3 separate regions of the Homo sapiens genome follow, and regions 2 and 3 are each linked to region 1. Evidence: fine-mapped expression QTL. A gene starts in region 1. Each other region holds a variant in brackets. All regions are shown on one strand. Distances are between the middles of the regions.

The links. PIP is the estimated chance that this variant, and not a neighbour inherited with it, causes the effect.
Region 2: its variant is the best candidate, but not a certain one, in a credible set for the expression of KCNK5 in activated CD8 T cells (Schmiedel 2018, PIP 0.87).
Region 3: its variant is the best candidate, but not a certain one, in a credible set for the expression of KCNK5 in whole blood (INTERVAL, PIP 0.53).

What each region holds. Positions count from the first base shown.
Region 1 is chr6:39,225,571-39,232,482 of GRCh38, reverse strand. KCNK5 (potassium two pore domain channel subfamily K member 5) reads left to right here and starts at 3,008. Exons shown (of 5, transcript NM_003740.4): 1 at 3,008-3,557. The coding sequence starts at 3,372. RefSeq lists enhancers at 1,703-2,430, 6,516-6,810 and silencers at 2,718-3,067, 3,168-3,247, 4,261-4,330.
Region 2 is chr6:39,119,172-39,126,083 of GRCh38, reverse strand. No RefSeq gene overlaps it. Among named protein-coding and RNA genes, the nearest start is that of SAYSD1, 7.4 kb to the right of the region's middle. The variant TTTA/A (reference allele first, on the strand shown) is at 3,090.
Region 3 is chr6:39,135,843-39,142,754 of GRCh38, reverse strand. No RefSeq gene overlaps it. Among named protein-coding and RNA genes, the nearest start is that of SAYSD1, 24 kb to the right of the region's middle. RefSeq lists a silencer at 5,205-5,405. The variant A/C (reference allele first, on the strand shown) is at 3,586.

The sequences.
Region 1 (6,912 bases):
CCTCAGAGCTGATTGCCTTCCAAAAGGTTGCACTCTGAAATTATTATCAACCCTGATCAATAATCATAATACTAAGAACTACACGTATGCTATTGGAATGGATTTATTTATCAGCCCTGTAGGAAAATATATATCTCACATCACCTCATTCCCATTTACCCACTTTTCCCTTTTCCAATCTTAAGGCTCGTGTTGTCTAAATATTCGATAGTTTCAGCACAGTTTACATTTTATAAAAGCCCCCACTGGCTGCTGTGCAGAGAGCAGGTGTGTGCCCCTGATCTACAGAAGGTCAAGTTGATCCAACTATCTGGCTGGGGCAGGGGAGTTGGAGAGGGGAGTGGGGAGATGGGGAGGGGAGGGGAAGTTGGGGGAGGGGAAGCACATTCAACTGGGATGGAGACAAAGGAGAGAGGCAGGAGGAGGGAGAATGAAGAGCTGGGGAAGGAGCTTTGGAAAAATACAGGAAAGCAAAGGATGCGGCGACAGAAGGAGAGGATGAGGAGTCAGTCAGCACCACATGGAGAGCAAGAAGGAAGAAGGGGACAGGAAATGCAGAAACAGAGTGGAAGGACAAAGAAACTACAACATACAGAGGCCTCGAATAAAAATCAATTCATCTCAAAGTGTTCAGCATTTTCATGAGGCTGTGAGACCGAAATAGGAAGAGGCCCTTTATTTTCTTAGGAAGAGAACACAGACCGGAGGTGGGAGAGGAATGGTAGGGAATTTTCCAAACAAAGAGAGGGCCTGTGGCCTCTCAAACTGCCCCCACCCCATGCTCACTGAAGCGTTCACACTGCAGCCCTGAACTCTTCACAAACAGGGTGAACTCCATCCAGAGAGGGGGGATCCGGAACCCATGCTTGGTTTCCATCCCAGCTGGAGGGCTGGAGAATGAGACTGCAGAGCTAGGGTTCAGGCCACAGCCTGGGGGACAGGGTAGGCAGGAGGTCAGCAAGGCTTAGAGAAGATGGATATGTTGGGTTGGGTGAGAGGCCTGGTGCTGGGAGTGGGTTGTCTACAGAGAAGCACCCCCAGGGCCTTGTCCAGGATGATCCTTGGCCAGGGGGGTCCTGAGGGGACTGGCACTGCACACCTCAGGGATGCAGTATCAGGAAATCTGGGGCTCCCCAGCTTCCTGCTCTGGTCTTCTTCTCTGGACACGCTCATGTTGCCATAAGGAGAGACAGAAACATCAGCAAAATCAGATCAATGCTTCCAACTGTATCCCTAACCCCTCCATTCCAGCCAGATTTGGAGATAGTACAGATACCCCCCTCCCCAAGTAAAGTGTCTCTTGACACCTTGGGGTTCAGGCCACAGCCTGGGTACAGGGTGGGTAGGAGGTGAGAAATGACTCCCCTTCTTCTCGATGGAAAGAAAAGGCCTTGGCCAGGGGACAGTGCTCAGGGACTCTGGCCACTCCAGTACCTGCCCCTACAGAGGCCAGAGAAGGGCAGGGCCAGCCCCTGGTACAGAGCACTGAAAGGAGGTTCCCCCTCCAACTTCTGACTGGTGCTGGTTGAAAGACTGAACAAACTAACCCACTGAGCTTTTTTCCTCACTGCAAAGTGGGTCGAATGACAGGGCCTGCTTATGATGCATGGAAGGGATTCAGTACTTCCTGGGGTTTACAAGAGCTCAGAGAATGGCAGCAAGGCGAGTTAGAAACATCCTGGGCACCTGTTTTTAACAAATTCATTCACTCCTTCATTGCACACATGGTTATTGAGTGTCTGCTATGTATGTAACAAGCACTGTGGATACATCATTACACAAGACAGATTCTCCATCTCCCCAGCAGACATTTCCGTGTGTGTGTGTGTGTGTGTGTGTGTGTGTGTGTGTCTGTGTGTGTGTGGCGGGGAGAGGGCACAATACAGAGTAAACAATAAATAAAGTTATATAATATAGCAGAGGGAATTTAGTACTAGGAAGGACATAAAGCCAACGAGGGAGATAAGGTGGCGGGGGTGGAATTTTAAATCAGCTGGAGCATATGTATGAAAGTGGGCCGGGCGCGGTGGCTCACGCCTGTAATCCCAGCACTTTGGGAGGCTGAGGCGGGCGGATCACCTGAGGTCAGGAATTGAGACCAGCCTGGCCAACACGGTGAAACCCCGTCTCTACTAAAAATACAAAAATTAGCTGGGCGTGATGGCGTGCGCCTGTAGTCCCAGCTTCTTGAGAGGCTGAGGCAGAAGAACTGCTTGAACTCGGGAGGCGGGGGTTGCAGTGAGCCGAGATAGTGCCACTGCACTCCAGCCTGGCGACAGAGTGAGACTCCGTCTGAAAGAAAAGAGGAAAGGAGAGGAAAGGAGAAGAGAAAAGAAAAGAGAAAAGAAAAAAAGAAAAGAGGCCAAGTGTTTCCCGTAGAGATACTGTGTATTGGGGGGGCGCACAGGGGTGCCACGAATTGAGCTGCCCACTCCTTCCAGATGCAGGGTTCTCACCCGGGTAGGTGAGAACGGGGTGAGGGGGAGGAATCACGCGTGGGTGGCTGGATTAGTTCCTGATGTCCTCTGATTCCCTACAGCTTCTTCAGCCCCGTTCTAACCCCCTTCCTCAGGCTTACAAGAAAGTGTGTGGAAGAGAGACACGGAGAGACTGAGCATTAGACTTTTTTGGAAGAAACATCAGTAAATGAAAATGGAATTACAATAAAAATAACAAAAGCAATAAACTCCTGACCTCAGTCACAATCATTTTAGTTAACACGCCAGTCCTAATAACAAACACGAGTCCCTGAGACCGCAACCCCTCGGGCACCGCAGGGCGTGCAGGTCTGGGCGGGCGGCGCAGCCTCCCCTGGCGGCTGACCCTGGGAGCGCGGGGAGCGCCAAGCCTCTTCTAGCGCTCACCTCGCGCTCACTCCTGCGCTCGCCGGGCTGCTTGTGCGGGGAAGGGGCGGGGCCCGCCTGGGCTCCTCCCCGGTCGGAGCCCGGAGCAAGGGGGCAGAGCGCGCCGGGCGCTGGTTAAAGAGGCGTGCGGAGGCGGGCGCGGCGCATACTGCTAGTGGCGCGCGGAGGAGCGACGCGTGGAGAAGCGGCCCACGTGTCTGCCCAGAGTCAAGTCCTGTGTTCTTCCCGCTCCTTACGCATCCGCGGTCCAGGGCGCCCTTTCAGCCCCGCTGGTGTTCGCCCACCCCGGGCCGCGTGAGTGGGGCCCCACGCAGCTCCCCGCACTCCGTGGGCCAACTTGGCCAAGCAACTCTGTCCGGGGAGCGGTGCTTGCGGGGGGTGAGTACCGGGCACTGCGCATGCGGAGCTCCAAATTCAAACAGCTGTTTTCAGAGGCTGGAGGGCGGGCGGACTGGTAGCAGCTGGGGCTAGGAGAGGCTTTCTCTAGGAGGCGGCCGCTCGGGAGCCATGGTGGACCGGGGCCCTCTGCTCACCTCGGCCATCATCTTCTACCTGGCCATCGGGGCGGCGATCTTCGAAGTGCTGGAGGAGCCACACTGGAAGGAGGCCAAGAAAAACTACTACACACAGAAGCTGCATCTGCTCAAGGAGTTCCCGTGCCTGGGTCAGGAGGGCCTGGACAAGATCCTAGAGGTCAGTCGCCGCCTGTACCCCCATATACATCTGAAGCTGGCTTGAGCTTTAGGGGGCGCTGAAAGGAAGACCCCTTCACAGCTTTGGGTGACCCTCAGTCCCTGTGGAAGGTCCAGGGGGTGATGAGAGAGCGTGTCTCATCATGGGTCAGGCTTCGAGGATCTGTCGCTCACCCGAGGGACACAGGGGTCCCCCAGGCGCGGAGACTCTTTGGAACTTAGTTTGGCCGGAGACAAATTGGAGTTGATTCCCGGGTGAACTAGGCTCCACGGTGTTTCAGTGTGGGTGTGACGGTACCTCCCTCCTTGGGAAGAGGCTGTGGGACGGATAAAGGCGTTTATCTTTCCCTGGAGACGCTCCCGGAGTCTGGGAGCCAAGCCTGGTGCCATCCCCTCGTGTCTCCACCTCCCCGCTCCAGGGCCAGTGCCACGCCTGCCAGGCTTTTCTTAAGGAACGTGAACCCGGCAGAGTGGCGGGAGGGTCCCTCAGCCCGAGCCTGGGCAAAATCTTCCGCCCCCAGCAGAGTTCCGGAGAGGAGCTGGAGGCTCTGTGGGGCCCGAACCCACGGGATGAGGGCTGGTGCCTGGAATGCTGGGGACGCGCTCAGGCTTCCGGGAAGGCTTATCTCGCGGAGACATCCTTCAAGGGCTTGGAGTAAAACTTTGTGAAAGTAGCAGGTTGCACAAACGAATAATACCCGCGTAGTCCCTTTATGATGGGGGAGGAGAGTGTGTGCGGAATTGGGGTGGGTGGGGGACTTCCCTCCGTGCTGACATTGGGAACCGCTTATTTTCTGGTGCACAGCCCGATGGGTGGCATTGACCTCACTTTGGATAAACGGGCTGCCTATCCTGGCTGAGACCTTGGGGCCCATTTGGGGACCGAGGCCCTCTACCCCAGTTTCTCGAGGGCTCAGCTTCAACCATCAACTCTTCTTGGCCTGCTCCCCCAGTGGAATGACCAGGACCTGGGTGAAAGTTCTAGATTGCAGCAGGTAGGGAGTAGGGGTAGATTGTCCAGGGTGTTACCTTGCTCTCAGGGTGAAAGATGCCAGAAAGGAGGTCTGATGAGAAGCAACGTTTAGTCTACAGCAGCACCTCAATACTTTATGCCTATCTAGTCGTCGCTCATTTTCCAGCCTCCGTTTCCCCATGTGAGAAACGGGAATGAGCCCATCCTCATTCCTTATTTCTGCCACGGACTGTTAGGTTGGAAGCATTTGGAAAACATCAAAATCTTGTCCCCAGATTGATGGACATCACACAGATAAGCATATACGTATTTGCTGGCAGCCGTGTGTGGGGAGACTTGTCCTCCAAGGGGTCCTGTAGAAGGGGAGGTTTAGTCTAGCAGGCTTAGTGTTGGATTTTAGTGGAGAGTCTCTTGCCCTGTAGCAGTTTCCCGGGTAGAGGCAGATGGGAGGTGATGGTGGGGAGGATAAGCTTCAGTAGATGGTTGGTTGGTTTACCTCCTAACAGCAAGAGTCCTGGCATGAAGAGTCTACATGGCTTCCTTCTGATGGGCGTCTACCCTGGGGGGTGTGTTGTGGGGAGGGGGTTGCTTTATGATTTCCCTTGAGGAAACAATTCCTCTAGAGAACAAGTTTTTGTTTAGTTTGTTCCAGGGCTTTGTTTAGAGGGGGAAGAGGGCAGGCAAGGATGATAAAGCCTTGAGCTGCCCTCGAAGTGTTTCCCTCTAAGCTGTTGCTCCAACACTGCAGGGGAAGGAAGGAAAGAATTCAAGGCTAAATGTGGGAAAATAAACTTCAAAACACAAGGCAAAGGGAAAGGCTGGCGGGGCATACGGCGGGGGGGGCGGGGTCCAGGGGTTAGGCAGCCGGGTGCAGCTGGTGGTCATAGCTTTGGAGGCTAGACGGCTTCTTAAGGTATTTGAACAAACAAAATGCCTCTTATTTAGCAGTCCTGTTAAATCTGTCAACATTTACCCCCCTACCAAAAAAAAGTAATGGGCAGGTAATTTTTAGAAAAAGGACTTGGGCATCAAGCCAGTCTGCTTTGGAGGCTATTATAGATAAGTTCTTGAACAAGGACAGCCCTGTCCTCATCCCCGGCCAAAGAAACTCCCAAACCAACCCCAACTGGGCGAGTCCCTTCCCGTCATAGGAAAAACCCCAAGAAATGAAAATGGACAAGTAGAAGCATTTGCTGACATCAGTTTTAATCTGCAGAAATCTGCCTTGCTCTGCTTTCTTGTGACTTGGGGTACTGCCTCAGGCCTCAGGATATTGGTTTAAGGAAAAATGAAAACTCAAAAATCTTCTTTCCCATCTGGCTGCTTGGGCATTTTCCACCTGACGCTCTGTGTTTTAGCTGGTTCTGAATCACCTTGGAATCATGAAGGAGCCCCTAGCTAGGAATTCCTGGGGTACAACCAGGGGTGGGACAAAGATTGTTGGAAGAGATGGGGTGCAGTCTGAGTTGGGGTTTCTCTTACCCTGAAAGTTGTGTGTGCTCTTTCAAATGTGTGAGAAAGGGAGTTAAGTCAACTTTCTTTAGAAATACCCCCCGAATTGTCAGATACTTCCTTCCCTCCGCTGTGGTTGAAGTGAGGTGCAGGCTGACTTTCAAGTGCTCAGTGACCCGCCAGCCTGGGACCACGTGATCGTCCTCTTTCCTGTCTTCAGAACCATCTTGAACCCTTGCTCTCAAGCAAGATCTTTGGTGACTCATTCTCCCAACCTCTTCCTAAATTGCAGACTCACACAAGGGAAGTTAACATTTACAGCACACCTACTCTGTGTTGGGCATTGTGGGTGCTATTATCCTCATTTTATGAGAGAGGGCACAGGCTGGTTTTGCCATCTGGCTCGGCCATTTACCCATCAAGCCATGTAACTTAACTTTGCCTTCCTTTCCTCATCTGCAAAATGAGTGTTTGGTGAGGCTCCAATAGAGTAGAAACATTAGGCAAGATGTCTATAAAAAGTGAACAGGTCTCCTGACCTTAGCATTTATTGAGGAAGGCAGCTTTACCTACCTGCCTTATTTCAGGTACTCTTTACAGTATGTATTCAAGTAAGCAAGCTGAAGCCCAGAGAAGATAGAATGGCCACAGGGACACCACAGGAGGCACAGCCTATGGGGCGGGACGGGGAGGGGCAATGACCAGGCAGTCTGCCCCAGGAGCTTGCACCTCCCTCTTGGGCCTGTGAAGATTGTTGCTCTGTAACTGAGCTTAGGAAATTGGTTCAGCTGGACCCTGATCTGCTGGAAAATTCTATTTTCTATTTCCCCTAGCACAGGTAATGGCATACAGGCGTCTCCTGTGTTGTTGCCTGGCTGACCCAGCACCTCTGTTACTGAAGTAATACATCAGTCCACCCCTCTGCGCTTCT
Region 2 (6,912 bases), 110 kb after region 1:
GGACTTGAACCCATGTGTGCAAAGTCCTCTTATCTTGGTTGACTTCTTCCTCTCAGCTTACCTAAGTCCTTTCAATCTTTCAAGGCCAAATACCATGCTTCTCCGTGGAGTCGTTTAGACCTCCCCTGCCTCACTGATCTCTTCCTCTACCTGGTAAGTTCCTGCTCTGTCTGTCCCACTGATAAGACACTTAGCAATAGTTTCTGGCATTATTTCTCATTTTGCATTCTTGTTTCATCTTCTCCATGATTTCATAAGTTTTTCTGGAACTCGAGGACCACAACTTATACCTGTTTGTCTTCCCAGAACCTTGAAACTGATCTGCACATAGAATAGACAGGATAGTGGGTTCCTGGGCTCTGCTCTGGAGTCAGACTCCCTGGGTTCAAAACCTGGTCCTGCTAGTTGCTTGCTGTGTGACATCAAACTATGGAATCTGCTCACATGCCTTCCTGAAGAGTTGTTGAGAAAATTAAAGTACATAATAATTTTCAAGTGGTCAGCACAGTGTCTGGCACACATTAATCACTCCACAAAGGCCAGATATTATTAGGAGCCCAATTTGTTGTTAATAGTGAATGACTCAACTGGTTCTCAAGGTTAAAATATATATATATGTGTGTGTATATATATATATTTGGGCCCTAAACCCTGGTGTTTAGTCAAGACTCTAGAAGGTCAATGGTTGAAGAGAAATGTAAGGCTGAAGCAGGAGCTTCCAAGGAGGTGGCTAAGCAGGCGATATTTTTCGAGTCAGGAAATATACTTCTCTGGATGTATGTACATGTATTTTAGTGAAATGGCCCATTTCTTCCAAGGACTTTATAGGACAAAAGCTTGCCTTCCTTCTGACTTTATTCCCATACAAAATCATGAGGAAGCAGGCTCTTATAAAACACACAATTCCTATGGTTTTCTTCAGGTGCATTGTCAACCTGCAAAGAGATTCTTCTCCAACTACTTTCAGTTAGTTTGGGGGAGAGTTTTGGGATGGGATTTACATATAGATCATTTTTGTTGCAAGCCTGTGAGCTTTAGGTCATCTGTTCTGCAGGCCACAGGAGGCATTTCTCTGAGTATCAGAGCTAAGCACAATGGAACTTGGACATAAGGCAAGTCAGGTGGTTAGGAAATTGTCAAAACCTAAGATCTTGGAATTTACAGGGAGTTGAGATGTAGAGGAGGAAAATGGAGAAGCTTCAGGTAATAGGATTGGGCAGACTGATGGGGACAAATAGTAGAGACTGTTGAGCTCTTTCAGAACACAAGATCCCAGTCACGGGGGGGTTACAAAAAGGCAAAGTTCAAGCCAGCAATAAGTGTCAGGAAAAGCAGTTGTAACCACAAAGCCAAGAGTAAGTGGGGGCAGAAGGGTCATGAACCATTACCTTTCATGCAAAAGATAATTATAAAGCATCAAACTATCACCAGAAATATTTAATGTCTATAGCAATGCCCATGAATTATATCATCTCATCAGCTTTCCCTCTCTGGGCCTCAGTTTCCCCATATTTGAATCTGAAGAACTCCCAGCTTGAGTTAGTGCCCCTCCTCTGTTCCCCAGACCTCTGTGTTATAACTGTCTATCAGTGAGTCTGTCTCTCTAACTATACCTTGAATTCCTAACAGTAGGACTGTATTTTATTCATGTCTGCATCCTCAAAGCCTGGTCCAGGGCCTGGCATATAACAGGTGTTCCATCAATATTTGCTGACTAAATGGTCTCTAAATTCCTTGGAGGACAGACTCATAGAATGACTGAATCAGTTATTCTAGGACTCTGACCTCTGCAGAGTTCAAGATAAAGTGAGAGCTAAAAAACCTTGCCAGCAGCAGTCCAGCAGCAGCAGTGCAAAGCAGGCTGCTTCAGTTGAAGCACTATAGCCCTCTGCTTCCCATCCTCTCTCTTAACTTCTTTATTACCATTTCCAAATATCTTCTTTGGTGACAGTCTAAAGTCCTGTTTTGCTTGCTTCAAACATCAAGGTAGGGGTTTTGTAAATGTGAAATACCAACCATCCCTCTAGTTTACTTCCCTTTTCTCAGGCAAGTCCATAGGCTTAGGTCTTGCATAGCTCTTAGATTCTCTTGGTAGAAAATCCTGAGCTAAAGATTCAAATGTAAGAAGTTTACTGGGAAAGTGATTCTAGGGAGCACTGATAGGGCAGCAGGGAAGTGAGACAGGAAAGGGAAGAAAGGTGATATAGGGTGTGTTAATGAGCTGTGGGCAACTGAGGCTCATTCCTACCGAAGACTCTTGGGAGACTCTGGGGAACACACATCAGAATCATCCCCCATAAGGAGTGAGGGAGCTAGGGTATTTATCCACCAACTCCCATCTAAAATTGGTTGAAGACTTTTTCAGGGTTGGAGAGGAATAGTCTCCCACCACTACTAATTTGCCTCATGTACTAGTTGAACACACTCCTGCAGCCAGAGAAAGCCCCCAGGTGCTTGTAGAAGCCATCAGGGCTGGGTGCAATGGCTTACATAGTGGCTGTAATCCCAGCACTCTGGGAGCCAAGGTGGGAAGATAGCTTGAGGCTAACAGTTCCAGACCAGCCCGGACAACATAGCAAAAACTAGTCTCTACAAGAAAAAAAAAAAATAGCCAGGCATGGTGATGCACACCTGTAGTCCCAGCTACTTGAGAGGTTCAGACAGAGGATTGCTTGAGCCCAGGAGTTCAAGACTGCAGTGAATTATAATCGCCAGGGCACTCTGGTCTGGGCAACAGAGCAAGACCCTGTCCCTAAAAAGAAAAAAAAAAGTGGGGGAAAAAAGCCATCATCATGTACAGCAACAGTGAGATTAAGGGGATATGGGTAGCCATACCGGTACCTTATGCTACTCATCATAGCTACAACTAAGACTTCTAGACTCAAATGCCCCAAAGTCTTCCATTCTTTCCTCCTAGTTTAGTCTACTTGGATTGAAATATGAAGCTCTCCAATTTCCCTCTACAGTACCCTGACAAGTAGACAGTCAGTCCCTGCTTGAATACTGCTAGTGTCAGGGAACTTATTGCCTCTGCAAGGCAGCACATTCTATTGCTGAAATAACTGAGATGCCAATTTTTTTTTTTTTTT[TTTA/A]AGATTCCACAGTTGTCATCTTGTAATTTCCAACTAAGTTCTACCCCTTGGAGTCCCACAGAATGATTCTCCTTCACCACAACAGCACTTTTGTGTATGTGTGTGTGCGTGCGCAACAAGGCTGTTTATTTCACCTGGATGCAGGCGGGCTGAGTCCGAAAAAGGAGTCAGCAAAGGGTGGTGGGATTATCATTTAGTTCTTGCAGGTTTGGGATAGGTGTACAAAGTACCTTCTTAAGAGTGGGGGGAGGGGAGGGGAGAATATTACAAAGTACCTTAAGGGCGGGGGAGAATATGTCTATCAGGGTGGGGCAGGAACAAATCACAATGGTGGAATGTTATCAGTTAAGGCTATTTTCACTTCTTTTGTGGATCTTCAGTTGCTTCGGGCCATCTGGATGTATACGTGCAGGTCATAGGGGATATGATGGCTTAGCTTGGGCTCAGAGGCCTGACATTCCTGTCTTCTTACATTAATAAGAAAAACAAAACAAAATGGTGGTGAAGTGTTGAGGTGGTGAAAATTTTGGGGGGATAATGGGCGATGTTTCTCAGGGCTGCTTCAAGCGGGATTAGGGGCGGCATGGGAACCTAGAGTGGGAGAGATTAAACTGAAGCAAGATTTTGGGGTAAGGGGTGATATTGTGGGGTTGTTAGAAGGAGCATTTGTTATATAGAATTATTGGTGATGGCCTGTATGCGGTTTTGTATGAATTGAGAAACTAAGCGGAAGACACAAGGTCCGAATAAGAGAAGGAGAAAAACAGGTATTAAAGGACTAAGAATTGGGAGGACCCAGGACATCCAATTAGAGAGTGCCCAAGGGGGTTCAGCATAATTATTTGCTTGGTTGGCTAGTTTTTGGGCTCTATCCTTGAGTTTTTTATGTTGTCATATACCAGGCCAGATTGATTTAGGTAAAAACAACACTCTTCATTTAAAAATATACAGAGTCTCCTTTTTTAGCAGTGAGTAAGTCGAGGCCTTGGCGATCCTGGAGGAAAGAGAAATGCAAAGCCAGCAATTGTTTGTTAAAAAAGGACTAGAAACGGCTAGGAAAGAGTGACTGAGATTGATAGTATGGTGGAGATAGCTGGGGAGAGGTAGAGGGTAGCATAAGAATGGGAACGAGAATAAGAGTATAAAACTAAGGAATAGGACTTTATCAGGGTGAAAGTATTGGAGGGTGCCCTGCCAGCAAAGATCATCTATCCACTCTAAGAGGGAGTTAAGAGTGGCAGTTTGGGGATAGCACCAGGAGATATCAGCTGTGATGGCTTGGAGAAACAGTGTAAACTGGCAGTGTAAACAAGAGCAGGGCATTTATAAGCAGTTGAGAATGGTGAATAGGAGTATGACTAGACAGAAGATAGTAGGGATGACAAGTTTTTGGGGCGCAGTCCAAGTAGTGGGGGTGACTGCGTAAAGCCCTGTTGCAAAAAGGAGGGTAAGGATGAATAGACTTAATAGAATGAAGGGATGTATTAGGCTCATGAGGGTTATTACGTTCTTCAGAAATTCGAGTGAGTTTAAGGGAAGTAGGGGAGAGTACCTGTGACTTCCAGGAGGAAGAGGAGAAATCAGGTTGGCTGTCCAATGGACACAGTTTTATTCTGGAACAGTGAACCCAATGGGGAGGGTCCTGCAGGCAGACTGCAATTGGGGTACTATGGATGACTAAGGAGGGTCTGGTCCATCGAGGTTGTAGAGTTTGAGGGGTCAGATTCTTAACAAGAACTGATCGTCCAGCTAGGGTGTCTTCATATGGCTGGGAATCTGGAGTAGGCAAGAGAAGATTAGCAGCCTGGCGAATTTCCTGTCTAGCCTGTTGGAAGACTGGAAGATAGTCGCCCAGAGGGCCACAACAGCACTTCTAACAGAGTTTCTAAAACAAACTGGTATGTTTTCACCGTGAATCTCCCTCTCTGGCCCAAATCACTCACTGCCTTTACCATTCTTACTACAATGTGGTCTTTAGACCAGTGGTTCTCAACCAGGGGCAAACTTGCCTCTTAGGAGGCATTTGGCATTATCTAGAGACATTTTTGGTTGTTACATCTAAGGGAGAAGCTACCGGCAACTAGTGGGTGGTGGCCAGGATGCTGCTAAGAATCCTACGAGACACAGGACAACCCCCACAACGATTTTCTGGCCCAAAACATCAAAAGTGCCAAGGCTGAGAAATCCTGCTCTAGACACATCATTATCCAGGCTACCCCCCTCTGCTTTATATGGTTTGTCATATAAAGCATAGTGCTCAGAACTTGGTATGTGGTACCTGCAAGGATAGGACCAAAGAGAGCATGAATACATGGGGGTATCAAGAATACATCCTTGGGCTGGGTGCAGTGGCTCATGCCTGTAATCCCAGCACTTTGGGAGGCTGAGGAAGGCAGATCACCTGAGGTGAGGAGTTCAAGACCAGCCTGGCCAACATGGCAAAACCCCATCTCTACAAAAAATATAAAAAATTAGCCAGGTGTGGCGGCTCGTGCCTGTAGTCCCAGCTACTTGGGAGGCTGAGACACGAGAATCGCTTGAACCCGAGAAGCGGAGGTTGCAGTGAGCTGAGATCGTGCCGCTGTACTCCAACCTGGGTGACAGAGTGAGACTGTCTCAAAAAAAAAAAAACTATATCCTCTCTCACTTTGAAAATGGGATTCATAGTAGCAGCTGAAACATTCCCCATATAACCCTCCTCCTACCCAGTCTGTGGTCAGGGAAAGGCTCCAAGTCCTATTGAAACAAATTGCTCCCAAGCCAATGATTAAGAAACAAAAACAATAATATAAAAACATAAATGCAAATCTAGAAGGAAGCACAGTTCCCTCTGAGCATCCCCACAATGCTTTAATCGTAATAAATTGAATCAAATTCATTTTGGTTTATTTTTTACCCTAAAGGCATAACTGCAGATCTTCTCTACCAAATTTTTGTCACCTGAATAAACGATAAATTCTCTCTCATATTTTCACCCAAGACACTCCTAAAAATATCAAACAGGACAGAGCAATGTTGATCCATTTCTTGACCCTTTTTGGGTAAGGGTGAATTGACCAGCTATGAATCCAGTTAATTGTAGATTACATTTATTTACCTGATACAAGGAAACACCAGGTCCAGATGGTTTTACTACTAAGTCCGACCAAAATATTAAAGAAACAGTTAATTCCTATTTTGTTCAAACTGTTCTAGAAAATTTGGGTGGGGGGTGTGGAAGATGGAGGCACACTTCAGCTTATTTCATAAGGCTAGCAAAATCTATCTAAAATTGAGGACAGCACATGAAAAGAAAATTATAGGAAAATCTCACTAATGAACAAAAGATGTAAAATTTCTAGAAAATTCTCAAACTGAATTTAGCTTTGAGTTTTATGTTTTATAAAGTGATTTGAGTTTTATTTATTCCATGAATGGAGGATGATTTAACAACAGAAAATCGATTACTATACCCCACCACACTAATAGATTAAAGGAGTGGGGAATCAAGAATGAGCATACAGGGACACAGGGAACTTAAAATGTTCTTCTTGGGTATTGGGTATGTATGTATTGGTTAGCATTTGCTGTGTAACATGCAACTGCAAAATTTCAGTTATGTAAAATAAGCATTTGTTTTCATACATTTTAGGGTAAGCTGGGGGTTAGCTATTTGAGGCTGTGCTCAGTTGGGCAGCTCAGCTTTAAACTGCAAGTCTCTGGGTCAGCCAGGTGACCACAACCTAGATGTCTTTCATTATTCTTGGATTAGCTGGCTAGCTGTTGCAAGTTCATCTCATGGAAATGTGGAATATTAAGAGAATTTATTTAACAGGACAAA
Region 3 (6,912 bases), 90 kb after region 1:
TAGAGTCTGGGCACATCCCTTTGAATATCCTTCATGGTGGCAAATCTTTTCCTCTGAAAGTATATTTGATTTTTCAAAATGAATGAAAATTATTTGGAGCCTGATAGTTTAGTGGGCTGTGAATTTATTCTGCAGATAAAGTGGTAAAATAGGTAATTGGGATGTGGAAGGAATGAAAGGATAAAGGTCTGTCTGTCTGTCTGTCTGTCTGCGCGTATGCACATACGCCTTTTTTTTTTTTTTTTTTTTTTTTTGAGACAGAATCTCATTCCGTCACCAGGCTGGAGTGCAGTGGCGTGATCTCAGCTCGCTGTAACCTCTACCTCCTGGGTTCATGCAATTCTCCTGCCTCAGCCTCGTGAGTAGCTGGGACTACATGTGCGCCACCATGCCCAGTTAATTTTTGTATTTTTAGTAGAGACGGGGTTTCACCATTTTGGCCAGGATGGTCTCCATCTCTTGACCTCGTGATCTGCCTGCCTCGGCCTCCCACAGTGCTGGGATTACAGGCGTAAGCAACCACGCCTGGCCCATATGCATGTGTTTTACCACCTACCCTGAGCCCAGCATCTTGCTTGGTACTGCTTTCTGCGTCCTTGTCTTATCTGTGTCCACGCTCTGAGGTGGATATTATTATTCCCAATTTCTATAGGTAGAAATTAAGGATAAAAGAGATGAAGTTACAATCCTCCAGTAGTTCACAAAACTGAAACTGGAATCTAACTTGCCTTAAGGGAATGAGAGCCTTTTTTTGGATAAAAATAAAAAATAAAAATAAACAAAAAGAAAGAAGACATTTGTTTCCTCTAAAGCGATGAGATGATTGTCTTATGTGGTCCCAGAACTGGCTCTGCAGATAATTCTAAACCATTCTGAATATGTTTGGAGAAACGGCAGCACCACTATCATAAGAGTAAAATTTCCAAAGAGACTTCTCTAATGGGCACAAACCTCACTTGGCTGTGTCTGCATTATTTTTGTTTTAAATCAGAGAATTTCCTAGTCATGCTTTGGTTATAGTTCTTTAGAACCCAGGCTTTAGGCACTAGAATGAACCCTGGAGATCCGCTTGTTCAGCACCGTCATTCCCGGGAGGCACCCTCAGCTCCGGAGATGAGCTGAGATGAGATGAGTACCTGCTCAGGCGCCCACAATGGCTAGGGGCAGAGCCTTCACTCAACCCAGGAACTTGACAATGCAGTGCTGCCTCCCCACAGCACACCGCTTCCTCCCTCGCTGATACAACATCTTTCTAACAACAATAAACTTTTTTGGGGGGAAATTTCCATGTGTCAGACACCTAAAGTACATTGTCTTACTAAGTCTTCAAGGAAACCTAAGGGTGAGAAAGAACCATTCCCATTTCACACATAATGAAACCGAGGCCCGGAGAAATCAAACAATAGGTCCAAGTTACATAGCTAGGAAAGCGAGGGCCCAGGATTTGAACCCAGCTCTGCCCACCTCTCAGTCCTGCATGTTTAACGGTACTCAATGCTGTCTCCTTTTGTCCCAGTGCCTTCTCCCTCTTCCTCCCATGTCCCCTAGGAGCCAAGTGTACAGATTCCCAGAATCAGGCACATTCCATTCAAACGCACCCTCCCTCCATCTAGTCACTTCCCTCTTTTTGTGTTTATCAACACAAATAGCCTGTCCTCCTGGCACATTTGTTTTGCTGGAGCCCTACCTTATTCCCTAGGAGCCCTGAGGAACAATGAGCTGTTACCCAAGCCCTCCGGGACTCCGCCCCCATCCTGGACAGCTTCCTCAACTTCCCCTCCTCACACTCACCCCCCTCCCTCAGAGCCTGTGTACAAAGTGCGTCAATCACTTGTTTACTTGCTTTTCCTGCCTGGGCCTGAGGTTCTGTTGGCTATTTTTCCCTCTGGAGTTTCTCCTGAGATGAGCTTTGATCTTCAGAAGGGAAGGGCCACAGGAAGATGATGAGAGATGCTAAGAGTGGAATGAGTGACGACTCATTCCATGATAGGAAACGAAAAGGTCATCTCTTAAAGAAACCAGCAAGGATGCTGGTGAGAACTGTGCATCCCTGCCAGTGCCTGGGTGGAGACAGGGACAGAATTCAAATTCCACAAGCCAGAGGCAAATCCTCCCAGACCTTTCCATCCTTAGCTAGCAGTATAATTCATCAAGTATTAAACCAATGTGTACCCTTTCCAGAAAAAGCTAGCGCTGCAGACACCCATTGGAGGGAGATGCTTTTAGATGCATATCTTCCCTTGGACAAGGCTGCTTGTGGAGACAACACAACTGCACAGTCTGATTTGAGAGCACACATGGGAACGTCTCTGGAATACTGCCTGCAATGCCACCCCAGTAGAGGTACTTATTTGGAATTCTAAAGACTAGTTTGGACCTCAAAATCCACATTAACATAAAAAAGGATCACTGGGCAGGGACATATAACTACTAAAATAATGTAGCAGCCAGGGTCCTGGCAAGATACGAAAGACATAATGAAAAGGATTTAACTGAAAATAATGTAATAAGGGACTATTTTTGGCGGGCTGTATGGGGTTAAGAGAAACAACAAGGGATGATGAGGCAGAGGGGAGGAAATACCCTTCACTTCTCTTTCCTTCTCCCCTCTGATTTCCTGCCAGTGCCTCCCACTGGCAAAACCCAGATAGTCAAGGAACAGAGGACCGTGGGTGATGTGCATAGAAGTCAGCCCCTGGGGCAGAGAGCAAGGTGGAAAGGGCAGAGAATGGATCAGAGTGGGCAAAGAAAGAATACACAGCCACCTACCCTCTCACTAACAGCTTAGGGGATGGTTTTTAACTGCCGGTCTCAGCAGAGCTGTTTTTCATGGACTCCAGGCTATTACAATAGGATTCTAACCACTGTAAAATGTATCTATTAAACAGGTCTGAAAATCAGCATTGTGCTGCTGGTCGGGTATTTTATTGTGATTACTGCCACCCCTGATTAGGCCTCTAGAAGAGGGAGAGCTCTTGCACCCCCTTTCCTATTTCCCTCTGTTCAAAGACTACACAGTACATGGGAACATATAATCTTATTACTTCACAAGGTAGGTTTGTTTTGGTGTCTTCTTGGTATGGAAGTTTTTATTGTGAAGTGTATCGTATGTATAAAAGAGTATTTGAGATATATGTAGAGTTTAAAATATAGTACATTTAATACCTATGTATTTACTACAAAAGTTAAGAAAGTGAACACTAACCTTAGAACACTAACCTTAGAAGTCCTCCAAATGCCCCTTTCTAAATAAAACCTCCAGCTTCCTCCCCAGAGGTAAACACTGTCTTGATTTTTGTGCTCATGTTTATCTTGATTATTTTTTCTTGTTGTTGACACAAGGTCTCACTCCGTTGCCCAGCCCAGAGGGCAGTGGCATGACCGCAGCTCACTGTAGCCTCAACCTCCCAGGCTCAATCGATCCTCTCACCTCAGGCTCCCAAGTAGCTGGGACTACAGTTGCACAGCGCTACACCCAGATAACTTTAAAAAAAAATTTTATAGAGATCAGGTCTCTATAAAGTATATTGCCCAGGCTGGTCTCAAACTCCTGGGCTGCTCAAGTAATCCTCCCACCTCAGCTTA[A/C]AGGCATTAACCACCACACTTGGCCCCATCCTGATTTTCGTTATAGTTTTACCACCTAGGTATATATCTCATAACAATGTATATTAAGTAGAAGCACAAATCTAGCTGAGAATTAAAGGGTAGTGTTGCCTATTTTATAAAGGTGCCCAGGAGAGAGATAAGCTGAACAGAGTGTCTGGGTAATCTGGTTTCATCTTCCCCAAGGGTTTACAAGAGCCTCTCCTGGAGGAATAGGTAGACAAGGTCATGAGTGGGTCTTCCCTTCCCCATTTTCTCTGTTCTCTCTTTTTAGAATTTCTATTATTGCAGTATTGAAACTTCGTGACTGGTCTTCTATTCAGTTTCATCTGTTTCCTTTTAGTTTCTTTCTGTATATTTTTGCTCTTTATGAGGAGGGAGATGGAAATGAGGTGATATTTCTTCAATATTTCTTCCTTCTCAGGGTTTTTCATTTTCCTTATCTTTTTTTAATTTTTAAGAGCTTTGTAATCTCCTTAAGTATTCCTTTTTTATAGCATACTGTTCTTGTTTCATGGAATTTCTTTTACTTCTCAATGAATATTGATTATAAAATTTATTTGGGAAATAAAATTTTCCTGCATAGTTTTTGTTTCTGCCAAATTGTTTTTTCTTCCATATTAGAGCTTTTCCTTATATGTAAAACTTGACTGTATGCTCATGATAACGAATAGACAGCTAAAAAAAAAAAAAACTAATAGGAAATTCTCAGCAAGTGGGCGAGGCCTGTCAACTTAGCTTCAAAGTAGGGTTATCTGGCTGCGCTGTTTGTTTGGAGAACACCCAATATCTTTAGGTATTTATTCTCCAGATGGTTAGTTACCCAAGGAATGGTCTTACAGTATCTTGCCATGAGGGTAAGGGTCTAGATGCTAATTTACTGGGAGCCAAGTGTGGAAATGGCATGGGCATTATAATTCAGAGTCAGTTCTTTTCCAGAGCACTGTTTCTAATGAAGGGCCCAAGAATGGGAGGTGGGAAGGGCACTGTCAGTCTGTGCCTAAAAGGCTTGTTTCCACCTCATTATACATCAGAATTGCCTTTGCTGTAGTAGAAAATTGGACATCCAAATGGTGAGGTAAGTAATAACAAACAAGAATTTGCTGAGTGTCTCCCTTACTTAGCAACATAGAAGTAGATGCATGTACTTGAGCTGGTCAATATCCACTGTGGACTGCATGGTAGGCATTGGGGAATTATTGAAGGTCTGTCTCTTTTCTAGTCATTTTGCAGTTGAGTAAACAATGGCCAGAGAGATTAAATTAACTGACCCAAGGTCAGACAACTATTAAGTGGCAGAATAAGAATTCTCATCCCAGTCTATTTGATTCCAAAGCTCTTTATTATTATTTTAAATAGTATTTTTTCCAAGAAATGTATACTTAGTATAGGTATCACAGGAAATATATAAATTTTCAAATAAACTTTTAAAAAACAACTATAAGGCCACCAAAACATTGTGTAATATTCTTTCATAGGAATCCACCACAATTTATAATTTATAAAAATAATTGATCATTTATTTGATTCTCCCCTAGTTAGGTTCATTTAGATTGGTAAACCTATGCTCTTTCTACTATATGACATCAACCAAGAGCAGCAAGCATAAGTAGGAAGAGCAGGGTCCTAGGCAGGTGCCCAGGTAGAAAGCTACTGAGTAAAAGGGATTCAGATGGACATAGTTCAGCACCCTGGAGAGCTCCATGACAGTATTGCTCCATTATGGACTCAGCAGTAACACTGGCTGGGAACCCTTTAGGGTTCTGAACTGCTTTCCCAGAATGGGATGTTAAAAGAGATAATACACGGCTAAGTTTTGGGGGGTGGAGGTGGTCTCTTTGTCCCTGAAGGGATTCATCCTTACCAGTCCCCGGTTCAAAGAGCACTGTGGCTGTGGGTAGTTTTTCTCACCACTCTGCTTTTTCTCATGCTAGCCCCTCAGCTGGGAATCCCTGGCTAATTTCTGCTGATCTTTCAATGTTCCATTTCGTCACTAGTTTCTCCAAAAAGATTTCTGAGCTCCCTCTATCTTCACCCTCAATGATTTTCTCCCTTTTTCCTCTGCATCTCTCTTACTCATTATATGTGCCATATTAGATTATAATTACGTCTGTCCTCCTCCTTAGAATATGAATTCCTTGAAGCAGGGACTGAGTCTTAGCTATATTTTGTCCCAGTAAGTACTCAATAAATAATATTTAAAAATCAGCAAATGAGTGCATTTTTGTAGGCAATGAGAAGCTATTGAAGGTGGCTCTCAACCAGTGGCAGTTTTGCTCCCTGAGAAAAATTTGTTGATATCTGAAAATAGTCTTTGCCGTTACAAGTCAGCGGGTAAATGCTCCTGGAATATAATAGGTAGAGACCATGGGCCCTTGTAAATATCTGACAATATACTTTACAGTCCCCAAACAAGGAATTATCTGGCCCAAAATGTTATTCATGCTGAGGATGGGAAACACTGTTTTAGAACAATAAAATGGATTTAAACAAACTCTTCTTCAGTCAGCTTAAGTCTTTAGAAAGCAGTAAGTCTAACTGGTTCATTTTACAGATGAGTAAAACTGATTTAGGTGGTTGTGGAGCCAGCGCAAGTACTTATACATGGCACCCTTTCCACATAGTTACACTTGTCAGGCCTCTGAGCCCAAGCTAACCCATCGTATCCCCTGTGACCTGCACCTAGACGTCCAGACGGCCTGAAGCAAGTGAAGAATCACAAAAGATGTGAAAAGGCTGGTTCCTTGCCTTACGTGATGACATTCCACCATTGTGATTTGTTCCTGCCCCACCTTAACTGAGCCATTAACCTTGTGAAATTCCTTCTCCTGGCTCAGAGCCACTGAGCACCTTGTGACCCCCACTGAGCACCTTGTGACCCCCGCCCCTGCCCGTAAGAGAAAAACCCCCTTTGACTGTAATTTTCCACTACCCACCCAAATCCTATAAAACGGCCCCACCCCATCTCCCTTCGCTGACTCTCTTTTCGGACTCAGCCCACCTGCACCCAGGTGAAATAAGCAGCTTTGTTGCTCACACAAAGCCTGTTTGGTGGTCTCTCCACACGGACGCGCATAACATTTGGTGCCGAAGACCCGGGACAGGAGGACTGCTTCAGGAGATCGGTCCCCTGTCATCGCCCTCACTCCATGAGGAGATCCACCTATGACCTTGGGTCCTCAGATCAACCAGCCCGAGGAACATCTCGCCAATTTCAAATCAGGTAAGTGGTCTTTTCACTCTCTTCTCCAGCCTCTCGCTACCCTTCAATCTCCCTCTCTTGCTATCCTTCAATCTCCCTGTCCTTCC